Regions from separate parts of the Homo sapiens genome. Here region 2 is linked to region 1. The links come from fine-mapping of genetic effects on gene expression. Tissue or cell type: whole blood. Region 1 holds a variant in brackets; the other region holds the start of a gene. All regions are shown on one strand. Distances are between the middles of the regions.

Region 1 (8,180 bases):
TCAAAACAAGCCTGGCCAACATAGTGAAACCCCATCTCTACTAAAAATACAAAAAAATTAGCTGGGCATGGTGGCGGGCGCCTATAATCCCAGCTACTCAGGAGGCTGAGGCAGGAGAATCGCTTGAACCCGGGAGGCGGAAGTTGCAGTGAGCCAAGATTGCGCTACTGCAGCCTGGGCGACAGAGCAGGACTTCGTCTCAAAAAAGATTATACAGAAAAGTGACTTGCAATAAAGGAACTGTACACATGTAGTCAATCAATGAAATTGCAAACAGTGCAGTCGCTCCAGATGTTAGTGAACTGGAGAATTATAGTCTGTACTCTTGCCAGCAAGAAGAAGGCAGAAACGTGAGCAAGCTAGAGGAGGAGGGAAATTGCAAGGGAAAGACAAACGTAAATTGATACTATTATCAAATGTTGCACCATGTGCAAAGTTTGCTACATTTATCTTTGGTCAAGGAGATTCTTAGGTTATTGTTGCTTAGCAAAAGGTCTCTCTGAAAACCTGAGCAAGAGAAAGTCAGTCTTCAAGAGTACCAATACCCTAAAATGACTCATGGATTTAAAACAACACACTCTCCACTGCCACCCCCGCCACAACCACCATAGCCCAGATGAATGCCAACAATTAAGAAAAGAAACGGCCAGGATTCCTTGGACCAGCAAAGGCACGTTTCTAGAGCAGGACGAGAGCTGAAGTGAGATGCTGGGAGAGGAACTAGCCTTGGAAAGGGTGGCGTGCTCCCACGAAAGCAACCCTTTGTTCGGGACAGGAGCTTTGAGCCTGGTAGCTCTCATCCCACTTCTCCAGGCCCTGCATAGTACAGAGGCCATGATCTCAGAATAAAAACCACTTTCAAAAACTACCATCACATAAGTAATTCTTAACTTTTCGAAAAGGTGATTTTCTATAGGCTAAATGGTTATTTTCCCTCTCTTAACAGAACTGTTTATAACTAGGGGAGAAGAGAGGAAGAGTCTGTTTCTTATCTAATTTCACCAATTCCAATGAAGTGAAGAGTATAGCATCCTCTCAGAGCTGGGTGTGGTGGTTTGCACCTGTAGTCCTAGCTACTCAGGAGGCTGAGGCAGGAGCATCACTTGAGGCGAGGAGTTCAAGACCAGCCTAGGCAACATAGCAAGACCCCATGTCTTCAAAAGAATAGAATATTTTCCTGGCAGACCCTGCCCCCCACCCATCAGAGCAGAATTTTCTCCAAAACATCTTCCAAATGTAGGCATATGGCCTGTGTCTAAGCTATATGGAATTAAACTCAGAAAAAGCTACAGCAGGCATGTCCAGCTGTCATCTCCTCAATGCTCCACCCTCTGCCTGGTAATCCCGGTTATTTGGAGGAGTGGGGAATTTTGGTTGTGGGTCTAGGAAAACAGAAGTCTATCCCGCCTCCTCCCACAATCAAAACAGAAGAAACCCTGTCCTAATACACTTAGATCCTTCTGAAGCAAACACAAGGACCACCTGGTGAAAACTAAATCAGTCAGTGCAATAAAATGTTAACTGCAAAGTCTGCATCTAAACAAGCCCTGAAATCTAAAGTGAATCGAAATGAATGTCATCTTCCGTGATGAAGGTCGTTCGTTCCTCATGTTCCTTCCACTCCCTAAAGCAAACATCACCACAAGGTAATTAAATACGCAATGATTTGACAATTCTCCAGCCCAACTCCACATTTCAACACACTTGAATTAGGAAATACTGATCAGAAACTTTCATTGTATCATTATATGACTTTACCCACATTTTACTGGCCTTAGGTGAAAGTGACATTATTGTTGCCTGAGAAATGTACACATGGATGAATGCCACTCACTCAACAGATATTTGAGTAGCTTCTACCTTTCCAGGCACAGAGTTTACTAAACCCTTTCACATCCATTAAGTCATTTGAGGCAATATTATTACCTCGTTTTTACAGATGGGAGAACTGAACTTCAAAAAAGTGTAAGGGGCTGAGAGCAGTGGCTCACGTCTGTAATCCCAACACTTTGGGAGGCTGAGGAGGGTGGATCATTTGAGCCCAGGAGTTCAAGATCACCCTCGGCAACATAGGGAGACCCTCGGCTGTACAAAAAATACAAAAATTTGCAAGGTGTGGTGGCTCACATCTGTAATCCCAACACTTTGGGAGGCCAAGGAGGGTGGGTGGCTTGATCCTTGGAGTTTGAGACCTCCCTGGGTAACATGGCAAAACCCCATCTCAACAAAAAAATACAAAAAATTATTTGGGCATGGTGGTACATGCCTGTAGTCCCAGCTACTTGGGAGGCTGAGGTGGGAGGATGGCCTGAGCCTGGGAGTTTGAGGCTGCAGTGAGCTGTGATCATACCACTGCACTCCAGCTTGAGACAGAGCAAGATCCTGTCTCAAAAAAAAAAAAAAAAAAAGTATAAGCGTCGTGCTGTACGGTGACACATCTTGTGAGAGTTGGCATCAGGACTCAAGCCCAGGAGACACAGTTCTCTTACCCCAAATCTAACACTCTTTCCACTACTCCTCACTGTCTATGTGACACCCAATTGTAACTTTTTTTTTTTTTCTGAGATGGAGTTTCACTCTGTTGCCCAGGCTGGATTGCAACGGTGCAATCTCAGCTCACTGCAACCTCCGCCTCCTGGGTTTAAGCGATTCTCCTTCTTCAGCCTCCCGAGTAGCTCGGATTACAAGTGTGTGCCACCATGCCTGGCTAATTTTTGTATTTTTAGTAGAGACAGGGTTTCGGCATGCTGGCCAGGCTGGTCTCGAACTCCCAACCTCAGGTGATCTGTCCACCTTGGCCTCCCAAAGTGCTAGGATTACAGGCGTGAGCCAACACGCCTGGCCATAACGTTCTTAATGTGTTCCACATGGTATACGACAGCAGAATGCCACAAAGAAGGGGCGTGGTCACTGGATTCTCAACCTGGAAATCTAACTGCATTTACAGCACACATTCTGTGTGGGCAACTCACTCTCTCTGAGCCTGTTTCCTGGTTTTTGTCATGGGCTAATCATTTCCGTCTTGCTGAATTGTAAGGTAACTGGAAAAGAAGCAGGAAAGTCCTTCCCCCACACCTGGGTGCACGGCAGGAGCGACCTGCACCTACTGTCATGAACATCCTTCCTCAACAAAAGCACTGAGGCTTCCCGCTTCTCCCTGGAACAACTTGAAGCTGCTGATGCAGAAGAGATGCCACGCTTCATGGGGTCCTCATGGATCCCCGTTAATACTGAATCCTGCTTCCTAGATCATCCGACCACCTGTGTTAGCCTATAACCAATTCTCTGCAATTGATGTAGAATTTTGTGCCTTCATCTGTGTTCGTAGAACAGTATCAACAGGAGCCATTATTTCCTGAATACAGGGTGATGTCTTTAATCTGGTTTTTAATCTGCTTTTTTATTTGCCTTTCCCACACCATGCATGCAGAGGCCACTGTGGACTCCCAGCAGAAGCCAGAACTAGCAGCTGAGATGACACAGCTGAGACATCAGGCCATCTCTATTGATAAGGCCCATCTGACCAAGCCACACTATGAAAGTCAGAGGCATCATGTGAGAGAAATAAGGAAATTGGAGCTTCCCAGAAAAAAACCCTTCGCTTTCTCTCAGTAGCCCAGGTGTTAGACACCGGCTCTTGCTACAACAAGATAAAATACAACGGGTTTCTCTTTTTGGTGAACATGACAGAAAGAGAATAACCAGCAGAAATCAAGTTGACCAGTAGTCTCTCTTTCTTATTTATTTGTTTTGAGACAGGGTCTCGCCCAGTCACCCAGACTGGAGTGCAGTGGCGTGATCACAGCTCACTGCAGTTTCAACCTCCCTGGCTCAAGTGATCCTCTCACCTCAGCTTCTCAAGTAGCTGGGACTACAGGTGCGTGCCACCATGTCTGGCTAATTTTTTTTTTTTTTTCATTTTTTTGTAGAGACAGAGTCTTCGCTATGTTCAAGACCCGGGCTGGTTTCAAACTCCTTGGCTCAAGCAACCCGCCCACCTCGGGCTCCCAAAGTGCTGGGATTACAGGCAGGAGCTGTGTGCCCGGCCTCTGTTAGCTCATCCATACTGGGTTATCGGGTTTAGCATCCCCTCCCAGTCCCTGTCCCCTGCCTTCTGGAGACTCAGCTGAAATAAAAACTGCCCACATCAAGAGTCCCATCTATGGGGCTGGAGAAGCTGCAGGGATGTCCTCCTCCCAGCGCCTACCAGACCCCCACCCTGCCCCCCCAGCCCTCAAGCACCCACATGAGCTGCTTCTCTGTTAAGCATTCACAGACAATGATCTACCCATGCTATATATTCACCATCAACGTGTATGGAGCACCAGCCGTGCCCTGGCACAGGCTCTGGTGATGCAAAGACACAGCTCTTATCCTGAAAGAGCTCATAGTTAGGAAGGGGCCTGATGAATAACTAGACACTCAGGGTACAGCAGAGCAGCGCCATACCACGCAGCAGGGTGGGGACGGGGGTGGGCTTGGAGTGGAATGTGGAGGAGGTTGTCCATCCCAGGCTTGTTGAGGTTGGGGTGGTCAGGCAGGCTTTCTGGAATGCATAACACAGAAGCTGTTCCGGGAACACACGAAGGAGTTAGGCAGACAGTGAAGGGGTCTGCTCCAGACAGAGCACATCCCCACGGCTTGGCTCTGGGCCACAGCAAGCACAGAGCCCCCTACCCATCAGCACAGCTCCCGACAGCAGGCAAAGGTGACAGTCGCCCCCGGGCTCTTCTGCCAGGGTGTCCTGGGAGGACGTGTGCTTTGGAATCTCTGAGTGTTCTAAGGATCTAGGGGCCTTTGTAGGAGTCCAGCATGGATTCTCTAATGCCTAGCTGTATGTTAATGGAATAGTTGTGACTACATAAAAAAAACAAAAGGCTCTCAATACACAGGTCTCCTGGTATCTGGGTTCAGCCTAACCTGGAAGTGATCACTTCAGAGGCTCCAGGTGGAATCAGATCTTCTGATCAATCCTCAAAAAAACTTCCCTAAGCCACCAGTGC[G/A]TGTGTCAGGAGCATCGCGTGGTCACCCATGCACATCGGCTGGGCCTGTTAGCCAAGTCGCTGCTGGGTCTTGGCCATTGGTGTGTGCAATTCACAGCCGGGCAGCTGCTGCAGACACCCAGTCATATACTTGTATAGGAAGAACAGCTGGCTAGCATTTCCTGGCAGCCATGATCAGCACCACAACTCAGGCAAAGTTGAGTTCAAAAATGTTTCTAAAACACTTGCTGTGTGCCCAGCACCTGTTTCATCTTCACTCTGTCACAGGTGTTATTTTTGAGTGGATCAAGAATTGGGTTTATCTGTCCCTCTATCCCATTCTACAGAAGTTTCCCAAGTGGCATACATAGAAAATATTTTTTGAATATATAATATGCAAAATATCACTAAGAGGGACTGGGCACAGTGGCTCTTGCCTGTAATCCCAGCATTTTGTGAGGCCATGGCAAGAGGGTTGCTTGAGGCCAGGAGTTTGAGACTAGCCTGGGCAACAAAGCAAAACTCTGCTTCTACAAAAAAATTTTATAATTAGCTGGATATGGCAGCATGCCCCTGTAGTCCTAGCTACTTGGGAGGCTGAGATGGAGGATCACTTGAGCCCAGGAGTTTGAAGGTTCAGTGACCTACGATCACACTGCTGCACTCCAGCCTGGGTGATGGAGTCAGACCTTGTCTCTAAATTATATATATATATATATATATATACACACACACACACACACACACACACACACACACACATACAAACACATATTGCTAAGAGAATGTGCTGTCTTTTTATGTAAGTAGAAAACTGAGCCACTATCGGAAGACCATGTGGCTTGACTTAGGGTTGGAGCAGGGTGGATGAGCTTTAAATTTATTTCTAGCTCTAATTTTCTTTGAGTCTAAATCATCCTCACTCTTTTACCTGGTTTGATGTGAGACCCACCATATGGTTTTGTGAGCTGCTTGACTAGGACGAGGTTTATAGCCTGACACTATAGACAGACATTTTCTCCCGTATATACAAAAGAAATGGCCCCAAGAAGGAATGAGCAGAATGCACTGGTCCCTTATTGTCCGTCCCAACAATCTCATCAAAGCAGAAGCGAAAATCACTCAGAGAAAGTAAAAAATTTATTCTGAGACTGCAGGTGCATAATGCCAAATAATCAAAGAAAAACCTGTCTGGGCATGGTGGCTCACGCCTGTAATCCCAATACTTTGCGAGGCCAAGGCGGGCAGATCACTTGAGGTCAGGTGTTCAAGACCAGCCTGGCCAACATGGTGAAAACTTAGCTGGGTGTGGTGGCGGGCGCCTGTAATCCAAGCTATTTGGGAGGCTGAGGCAGGAAAATCGCTTGAACCTGGGAGGTGGAGGTTGCAGTGAGCCAAGATTGTGCCACTGCACCCCAGCCTGGTGAAAAAGCGAGACTCCATCTTAAAAAAAAAAAAAAAGAAAAGAAAAATTGGCCGGGCATGGTGGCTCATGCCTGTAATCCCAGCACTTTGGAGGAGGAGGGCAGATCACGAGGTCAGGAGTTCGAGACCAGCCTGATCAACATGGTGAAACCCTGTCTCTACTAAAAATATAAAAATTAGCCGGGCGTGGTGGCTTCAAGTGACACTACCAAGGTATGAAAGGAAAATAAATCTCAAGACCCCCAAATCACTAAGCCAAAGGGAAAAGCCAAGCTGGGAACTGCATGAGGCAAACCTGCCTCCCATTTTATTCCTACATAAGACGGCTACAAAGATAAAAGGCTACATACCTCTCTCACAATTTACCCACAAGGAAACTCCTTGTGGACTTCAAGATCTTTACCCTAAAACAGTTCTGCTGAACTTCACCTTGGCAATGCAAATGGGTACAGGACAAAGGACAGAACTCAAAGTCATCCCTCTGCTCACCTGAGACAAACGCATATCTGATTGCTTCCTCTGCCCTATTGTTTTTGTAAAAATGAAGATTCAGGCCAGGCATGTTGGCTCATGCCTGTAATCCCAGCACTTCGGGGGGCCGAGGTGGGTGGATCACCTGAGGTCACGAGTTCAAGACCAGTCTGGCCAACATGGTGAAACCCTGTCTCTACTAAAAATACAAAAATTAACCAGGTGTGGTGGCAGGCGCCTGTAATCCCAGTTACTCAGAAGGCTGAGGCAGGAGAATCACTTGAACCTGGGAGGTGGAGGTTGCAGTAGCCGGGATCATGCCATTGCACTCTAGCCTGGGCAAAAAGAGTGAAACTCCGTCTCAAAAAAAAAAGTAGATTCACTGAGCCAACTAAGGCATAAGTGACTCTTCCTCTGCCCCCCTCTCATATGTAAATTGTGTATTCAGTGAAAGGCTGACAAAGACTCAGAAGAATGAAGCCTTCTCTTATCTACCTATGACCTGGAAGCCCCTACTTCGAGTTGTCCTGCCTTTCCAGACCGAACCGGTGCACATCTTACATACATTGATTAATGTCTCATGTCTCCCTGAAATGTATGAAACCAAGCCATACCTTGGCCACCTTGGACATATGTCCTCAGGATCTCCAGAGGCCGTGTCACATGTGTGTTCTTAACATTGGCAAAATAAACTTTCTAAATTGACAGACCTGTCTCAGATACTTTTGGGTTCACAAAGGAGTGCCTGACTGTTTTTTGGAATCCTTTGAAATCTACTGGCCGCTGGCTCTGCTCAGCAACGTCAGGCCCTGGGGGAAATCAAAGCCTCAGTGAACTCAAAAACCAACAAAGGGGAACTGCTATTCCCAGCTATTCCCTGGCTGCCTGGACTGTCCCAGGCCTGTGATGAAGCAGGGGGAGCCGCAGACACTGGGAGAATCCGACGCGAGTCATTGTGAAATAAACCAAGCTGGTCTTGGGGAGTCGGGCAGAGAAGGAGCATTTTGGAGACAAGGGCAGCTTTCATTTGCTCCTGAGATTTTGATCTGGGGCTTTATCATTTGATCCAGAGCTTGGAGGCTTGCATCTTTGAGAACATTTTAGGTGGAATAAATGGGTGGGCAGGATGGAGCTATTCATATCTCAATACTCACAGTGTCCCTGCCAGTGCTGGAGTCCGACTCTGCCTGCACAGGAAGCACGCACCCAGCAGCTCATGCTGACCGTCATGGATTGAGTCTAGATCCCAGAATGAGCGTTCTTGCCACAGCAAGTACTGCTAGGAAGTCACCTTTGAGGGGA
Region 2 (8,180 bases), 50 kb before region 1:
TATACTGGATTCATGCGCCCTCCCCGCAAGGGGCCTCTCTTCCAGTGATCCCCATCTCAACACATGATGCTTCCATCCATGTCATTGCCCGAATCAGAAACCTACTCTGCCTCACCACTGACATTCCATTAATCCCTAATCCCTATCTTCTCTGGAAGGTGTCCACTTCTCTCTAATCCCTGCCTCATGGCTCCAGGCACTAGCTCTCTCCTAGGGATTACTGCAATTGTCTAAATAACCTCCCAGCCTCCAGGCTCAGCCTGTTACAGTCCATCCTGCACACATAGTCTTTCTGAAATGGAAATCTGAAAGTGTGCCACTCTCCTGCTTCACATTTCTTCAATGGGTTCCTGGGCTTAGAGGTAGGAAGTGTGGAATCTGAGCCATTCTGCTCAGATCTTCCAACGTCCTTGAATCACAGCTTTGCTGTTCGACCTTGGGCAGTTATTTAAGCTGTCTTTGCAGCTTCCTCATCTACGAAAAGGGGATCACAACGGTAATTCATTTTAGAGTAGTTGGGGGGATTAAATGATTTCAGATCCTCCTCTCTTATGTGAACTCTTAAATTTGGAGTGTCCCTGGAATCTGGTTCTCTTATCTCTCCACACTCCTTCCCTCGGTCATCTCAACAGGTCCTACTACTTTAAATATCCATATACTGAAAACACCCAAATTTATATCTCAAGCTCAGCCCACTCTCCTGAACCCTGGACTTATATGTCCAGCTGCCTTCTCAACATCTCCACTTGGATAGTTAATGGAGCTCACAGATATATTGATATACTTTGGATGTTTGTCCCCTCCAAATCTCATGTTGAAATGTGATCCCCAGTTTTGGAGGTGGGTCTAGCAGGTGTCATGGGGTTGGATCCCTCGTGAATGGCTTGGTGCCCTCCCCATGGTAATGAGTGAGTTCTCACTCTGTTGGTTTATGAGAGAGCTGGTTGTTTAAAGGAGCCTGGCACCTCCTCTCTCTCACTCCTGCTTTCACCATGCAACTGCCCGCTCCCCTTTCACCTTCTGCCATGAGTAAAAGCTTCCTGAGGCCTCACCAGAAGCTGAGCAGATGCTGGTGCCACGCTTGCATAGCCTACAGAACCATGAGCCAAATAAACCTCTTTTTTTTTAATATTATAAATTACCGAGTCTCAGGTATTCCTTTATAGCAAGCTTGTCCAGCCCAAGGCCCATAGGCTGCATGCGGCCCAGGATAGCTCTGAATGCAGCCCAACACAAACTCATAAACTCTCTTAAAACATTATCAGATTTGTGATTGCTTTTTTTTTTTTTTTGAGACGGAGTCTTGCCTTATTGCCCAGGCTGGAGTGCAGTGGCACAATCTTGGCTCACTGCAACTTCCACCTCCCAGGTTCAAGCAATTCTTTTGTCTCAGCCTTCCGAGTAGCTGGGATTACAGGTGTTCGCCACCACACCCGGCTAATTTTTGTATTTTTAGTAGAGACAGGGTTTCACCATGTTGGCCAGGCTGGTCTCGAACTCCTGACCTCAGGTGATCCACCTGCCTCAGCCTCCCAAAGTGCTGGAATTACAGGCATGAGCCACCGTGCTTGGCCTACCCATAGTCTTTCTAGTCTCAGCTGATGAAACTATCCTTCTCCATGCTGAAGCTCAGTGGCCCTCCCTTCTCTCTTGTTCTCACTCCCTGCATCCCATCCATCTGGAAATCCAGCTGGCTCCTCCTGGAGACTACACGCACAGTCCACCTCCTCCTCACCACCTCCATGGCTACAGCCTGGTCTGAGCTCCATCACCTCTCGCCTGGGTCACTGCAGCGGTCTCACTAGTCTTCTTGCACAGTCTTCTCAACCCAGATGACTGATAAATCAGATCCTATCACCCCTTTGTCCAAACCCTCCATGGGCTCTCTCTTTCACAACCATAATCTTTAAAAGAGCTTTCTAGCCCCTGTGTGATCAGGCCACCCACCCTGTAACCTTGTCTCCTCCTTTACCCTGCGCTCATTTCACTCCAGCCACACTGTCACCCTTCCTGCTCCAGAAACTCCCCAGGAGCATTCTGGCCTTACAGGCTTTGCAGTGCCTGTTCCCTTTGCTGGAATGCTCTCCCCCAAGATCTCCCTATAGTTAACTCTTCTGCCTTCTTCAAATCTTTGCACTAATGTCTCTTCTCAATGAGGCTTGTTCTCACTACTCTCTTAAAAACTGTAATTTGCCCTCCAATCCCATAACACTCCTGGTAGTTTTTTTTTATTGCACATGCCATCTTATAACCTACTATATACTTTACTTATGTATATTGATTATTATCTGTCTTTTCCCCACTAGAATATAAGCCTCACTAGGACAGGGTTTTTTTTTTTTTTTTTTTTTTTTTTTGAGACAGAGTCTCACTCTGTCGCCCAGGTTGGAGTGCAGTCGTGCGATCTTAGCTCACTGCAACCTCTGCCTCCTGGGTTCAAGCGATTCTCCCGTCTCAGCCTCCTGAGTAGCTGGGACCACAGGTACGTGCCATCACGCCTGGCTAATTTTTTAATTTTAGTAGAGACAGGGGTTCATCATGTTGGCCAGGCTGGTCTTGAACTCCTGACGTCAAGTGATCCGCCCACCTCAGCCTCCCAAAGTGTTGGGATTACAGGCGTAAGCCACCGCGCCCAGCTCCAAGAGATTTTTGTCTTTTGTTTACTGGTGTTATGTATCCAAGCACTGGAACAGTGCCTGGCGCATGGTAGGGCTCACTAAATATTTATGGAATGGTACTTACAAATTATAAAACACAGTGTATGGCACACAGTGTTTTATAAATATTAACATTTCCAAGGTTCACAACCACTAGGCTCCCTACTTACCTTTCCAGCCTGATCTCCCTGCGCTCTTCCTACCATTCCAGCTCAGCTATACTTAACTTGCTCATCTGCAGAGCCTTCCTTATGTACTTTTTTCTCTGTCCATCTATCCCTGCATTTGAGGGATCCTTTCTCATTTTCAGGTTTCAAGGTAGAGGGTCTTCCCTGACTCTAGGTCAGCCATCTCTACAGCACTCCTCCCACCCCCTATGCGTTCCTTATTCATCACACTGCATTGCAATCCCTTGCTTCTCATTTGTCTTTCCTGCTGGGCCCTGTAACCACAGGGACAATGCCTGTGACAGCAGTCATTGCAGCATCTCCAGCATCCAGCACAGGTCGATACGTGGGGGTTTTCGGCAAATGTTAATTCAGTGAATGAATGAGAAATTCTCACGGCAGCGACTGCATTTCTGCACCTTCGACACACATTATCACGTGTTATTGTATCTTGTGCTGTTCCTTAGGGCATAACAATTGCTAGCATTTTCTAACTCAATCCTCACAACTCTAGGAGGGAGGTACTATTCACGTTCTTATTTGAGAAGTGAGGAACTTGAAGTTTAGAGGAGTTACAGTTCTTTCTCACGGTCACTCAGGTTGTAAGTGTTGGAGCGGGTTCAAGCCAAGTCCTCTGGCACCAGCGTCCCTAAGCCCACCCAGAGTCATACCATTCTGCCATTTTGTTTCTGGCTTTTCTTCATAGTTCAAAGTCAGCCAACTACCTGCCCTTAGCAAGCGTGGAGAGAACCCCCCGCACCACCTCAGCAAAGGGCTTGTGTGTGGAGGAGCTGCCACCCACGCTCCATTTCACCAAAGTGACAACTAATGCTAGGGAGGGCGAACCTCTCATCGGCGAGGTCGCCACTGTCACCAGCGCCCACTGCTGGGTCCAAGGCTGGCGACGCCTCACCGCATCTGGGCTTGACTTCCTGCGTCACTGGGGCGACCCCTGGTCCTGACTTCCACTCCACGCCTTCGTGGATCAGGACGACTGGGACCACTCAAAAGCGTATCCAAGTCCTGAGGTCTCCAAAGCGGTGGAGAGACCCGCCCAGCCCCTCACTCCCCGGCTGGGAACTGAGATTGTGGAGGGTGGGCGCCCTGCCGCGGCCCAGTGGGGCTGGGGGCTTCCAGAGTCGGGGTCCAGGGCTCGGTGTCCGAGACTCCACCGCCAGCCGCGCCGACCTGACCCACGGCCGGGTACAACAGAGAAGGCGGCGCTTCCCAAAGGCACCGATGGAGTGCAGGGTAGCCGCCGCCCTCAGGATTTATCAACCGCGAGGCGCTGTCAGCAACTCGTGCCCGGAAGCCACCCCGCCCCGGCACACACATACTCCAGCGCCCCCTCCAGGCGCACTCCGCAAACACGCGAGCGCGGCGACCGCCCCAGCCCTTTGTGACTGGATGAGTGGGGCCGAGCAGCACGCACTGTCTTCGACCTCCAATCAGGACTCGGGGTCTCGGAGCTGTACCAATCGGAGATGACCGTGGCCTCAACAGGGCCAATCGGGGGACTCGAGCCCGACAACAGGGCAAGCCGCCAACAGCGATCAATCAGAGGGGAGGAGCGGCTCCCAGATACCCAATCAGCGGCCTTCAGGCGCAGATCGTGGGCGGAGCGGTAGCCAGGCCGCGGGCCGGCCAATCAGCGGGCGAGCGGCTGCCTCAGCGCGCGCGGCGGGCGGGGCGGGGCCTGTCCGCGCCTAGGAGCAGTGGGCGCTGAGAGCAGCAAGGCCAGGTGAGGAGTAGGGACGACCCCGAGCCTGGAGAGGGGGCAGGAGTGGGGGCGCGCGAGGGTCGGGGCGGGGTCTCAGGATGCAGCCGGGCGGCCTCTCAGGGCTGCGGACGCGGCGGGGAGAGGTGAGGGGCCGGGTTCAGAGTTCGGGGAGGGCGTCCTTCCCGGCGCCGCGGCTGCGGGCGGAGGGGACACTGTTGCCATGGCAGCGCACGTGCGCTCGCTGGCGCGGCCCGGCACCCCTGCGCTCTTCACCCCGGAACGCGCGTGCCCCTTCAGCCAGGCCCCTGCCCGCCTGCGCCCCGCGGCCTCCGTCGCCGCCGGCTCTGGGCCGGGGCCTGCGCAGGGACCGCCTGCCTAGGCCGCTGCCTCTCCCTCGCACCCCGGGCTGCCTGGCTGTCTCTCCCTCCTGCTGTCTCCTCCAGGCGGCGCTGGGCACCGCAGGCCTCTGCGTTTTGACCACCCGCGCCGGTTCGCGGAATGGCCACATCCTGGCGACTGGCACCAGAGAGATGCAACCGTCTGAGGGCCTTGGGGTGTCTGTCCCCCAGGGAAATTTTTTTTTTTTTTTGGAGGTGGAGGGGGCGGGGTTCTCCCTCTGTTGCCCGGGCTGATCTCGAACTCGTGAGCTCCAGCGGTCTGCCCGCGGAGGCCTCCCTAAGTACTGGGATCACAGGCGGGAGCCCCAAGGGATCTTTTTAAATGTCTTACTGCATTAACAAGTGCCTAAGGAGTGCTCAGAGAATAGCTCTGATTGGATGAATAAAGACCCCCAAGGGCAGCTTTCCATTCCTCCCACCAATTCTGGTGGGCAGAAATAGAAAGCAAACCACATATGTAATTGTACATGTTCTGGTAACCACTTTAAAATAATAAAACAGGTTAAATTAATTTTAATATATTTGATTTAACCCAGGATATCCAAAATGTTATTACAACATATAATCAATATTAAATTATTGGTAAGATATTTGAAATTTTTTTTTTCATGCAAAGCCTTTCAGATTTGTCGTGTGTCTTACACTTAACAGCACACCTCAGTCCGCACCAGCCACCTTTCAAGTGCTCGCTGGTCCCATAGTGGCTATCGTATTAAGCTGCGCATTTCTTGTGTATGTGTGAGCTGTTGCCAAAACATGACATCAAATTCAGTGTTCTTGGAAGCCCTCTTCAAAGAACACTGATTGTGTTGCAGTCAGGCAACGCAAAACATGAGGCACGGCCCTTTTCTTCAAGGAGTTTGCGGTTCGGTTGAGAAAATAGACACCCACAGATAAGTAGTATTTTAAATGGATGCAATTTGGGCGATAGTAAAGATAACTGGGAGTATATGATTGACAGTCAGATGACTGATCATTATCGTTTCGAATTCAAGGGAGGGCTATCTTCAGGCTCATGCAGGAGGGGAAGATTGGGCCTGGTCTTGAAAGATGGGTAAGTCTTGGACTGTTGGGAAAAGATGGGGAGGGCCTTTTGGTTGAATGGAACTGAATATCGCTGCTTTTGTTTTTAGAGTTGAAAACTTACAGAGTCCTGAGGCTTTCAGACTGAAAAAGGCTTTCTTCTGTCACTGACAATCGCCACCATGATCCATAGTCTTTTCTTGATCAACTCCTCTGGAGACATTTTCCTGGAGAAACATTGGAAAAGTGTGGTCAGCCGTTCTGTTTGTGATTACTTTTTTGAGGCGCAAGAGAGAGCTACTGAGGCAGAAAATGTGCCTCCGGTTATCCCTACCCCTCACCACTATCTCTTAAGTGTTTACCGCCACAAGATCTTTTTTGTGGCCGTGATCCAGACGGAGGTCCCCCCTCTGTTTGTCATTGAGTTTCTTCACCGAGTGGTGGACACATTTCAGGTTCGTGAATGTGGGAAAGTTCATATATGTAAACCGTAAAGTGTCTTTGTAGTCCTGTTTCCATTGTGTAAAGCCTCCATTAAGAAACTTAAAAAAAAAAATCAAAACTCTGGTATTACTCACTTCCTCTCCCATCTGATAAGATTCTGGTTTCTATTTATTGAATTGGCTGCATGCAAAATGACAAATGGAATACTTTTGAACCTCTTGCGTGGGAAAGTCATCCTATTTGCGATGACTATATATAGCCTTTCTAGCTCTGATTCTACTTTTTGCTCACAAATTAGAGTTTAGATTGTTTTTGCCTGGTGGTCTTGATCCTAACCATTGTTATCTGCATTGCTTTGAGTTGCATCAGAAAGTGATTGTATAAAGTTTTAGAAAAGAAAAAGTAGAAAAAGCTAAGGAATGCTTAATTTAACTCTCCCAGTCAGGGGTAACTCATGAACCTGTACTAGTTCTCAGGTTTGAGGTGGTTCTTTATAGTGAGAGAGTGGTACTGATGAGCTCTGCTTGCAAAGATGAGATTGGGAAATCTCATGTGCCTGTAAGAATTTAAGTGAGCCATTTTATGAGGCAGTTTTCATTTTAAGCTTTTTCTTCAGGAATAGATGTTAAGAACTTAGGGGGTGATGTCCAAGGGAGGTCAGTGATACCAGGACACGACACCATTTGCAGCACAGGAGTTCAGACAGCACCGGCCCTGGATTCACACAGAGGAACTTTCTCCCAAAAGAACCAATCAACTTCTAACTGTTGTGGTTATTTGCATAACTCAAATGAGAAGCGAGGGCCTTTTGGTTTAACTTCTGTGTCATATGAGGTCTGGAATGAGTCATATGAACACTGGAATTGTGGAATTGGAGAAGAGAATGAGGACCCACACACTATGATAAAAGTTAAAAAGCAAGTCAAAGAGTTCCTTCTCTTGTACTCATATCTGCACCACGTCTAGAACAACTTCCCTTCCCAAGAGAATTAAAATACATTTTTTGTTTTTCCCTGCAATACTCTGTAGTACTACTGTTCTGGAATTTCAGTTCTCATGCAACATACCGGCCCCTTTGCACAGTGAAAACGTAAGTATAAGTCCCAGTATGTGGAAGAACTAGAAGAACCCAGGAGTTGTGATCCTAAACAACTTTTAACTGGGCCTTGTTATGATTTCCACGTGTGATACTTTACTCATTCTGAGATTAACAGTCGCACTGGTGAAACTGACAGCCGCTATATGGCCATACTAATGTAACTTATTACAAGACAGGAAGTGAGAAGAGTTGTTTGATCTAGTTGAAACCATGGGGGAATTTGGGAAAGCAGAGTAAATTTGCTAATTTGGAAGTCTGAGACTTCAGAGCTTGTTATTCTTGAAGCAGTTGTTAAAAGTCAGTGGACATCCTGATTCTCAGGTCTCCGATGTGGATGTGCATCCTCTCCGGCAGCATGATTTTTCCAGGACCAGAATGTGACAGGAGCGGCCCCGCAATAGAATTGCAGGCTCACAGGCCGGCTGCAGCACTTGGCTGTATTGCGAGGCTCCTTTCCAGCTGCTTAGTTCACATGATGCCTGGTTTATAAAACCTAGTGAAGTGTTTTATTTTTTAAAAATAAATCACTTTTGGGAAGGAAATGTGTGACTTTTTCTTCTTTTAAATTATCATTCAAAATGAGAATTTTCCTCTTAAAGAGGAAATCTTTTTGTTTTAGGAATACATTCCTGACTCTTAGGTGACCCGGGTATTGGAATCTTGTGGATAATT

Evidence for each region. PIP is the estimated chance that this variant, and not a neighbour inherited with it, causes the effect.
Region 2: AP3M2 starts here. The variant in region 1 is fine-mapped to the expression of AP3M2 in whole blood (TOPMed, PIP above 0.99).

Annotation. Positions count from the first base shown.
Region 1 is chr8:42,198,286-42,206,465 of GRCh38, forward strand. The region is part of intron 1 of PLAT (plasminogen activator, tissue type); the gene reads right to left. Among named protein-coding and RNA genes, the nearest start is that of PLAT, 5.2 kb to the right of the region's middle. The variant G/A (reference allele first, on the strand shown) is at 5,004.
Region 2 is chr8:42,148,541-42,156,720 of GRCh38, forward strand. It overlaps AP3M2 (adaptor related protein complex 3 subunit mu 2), which reads left to right and starts at 4,523. Exons shown (of 9, transcript NM_006803.4): 1 at 4,523-4,565; 2 at 6,076-6,420. The coding sequence starts at 6,148. RefSeq lists an enhancer at 3,479-3,598 and a silencer at 4,429-5,038.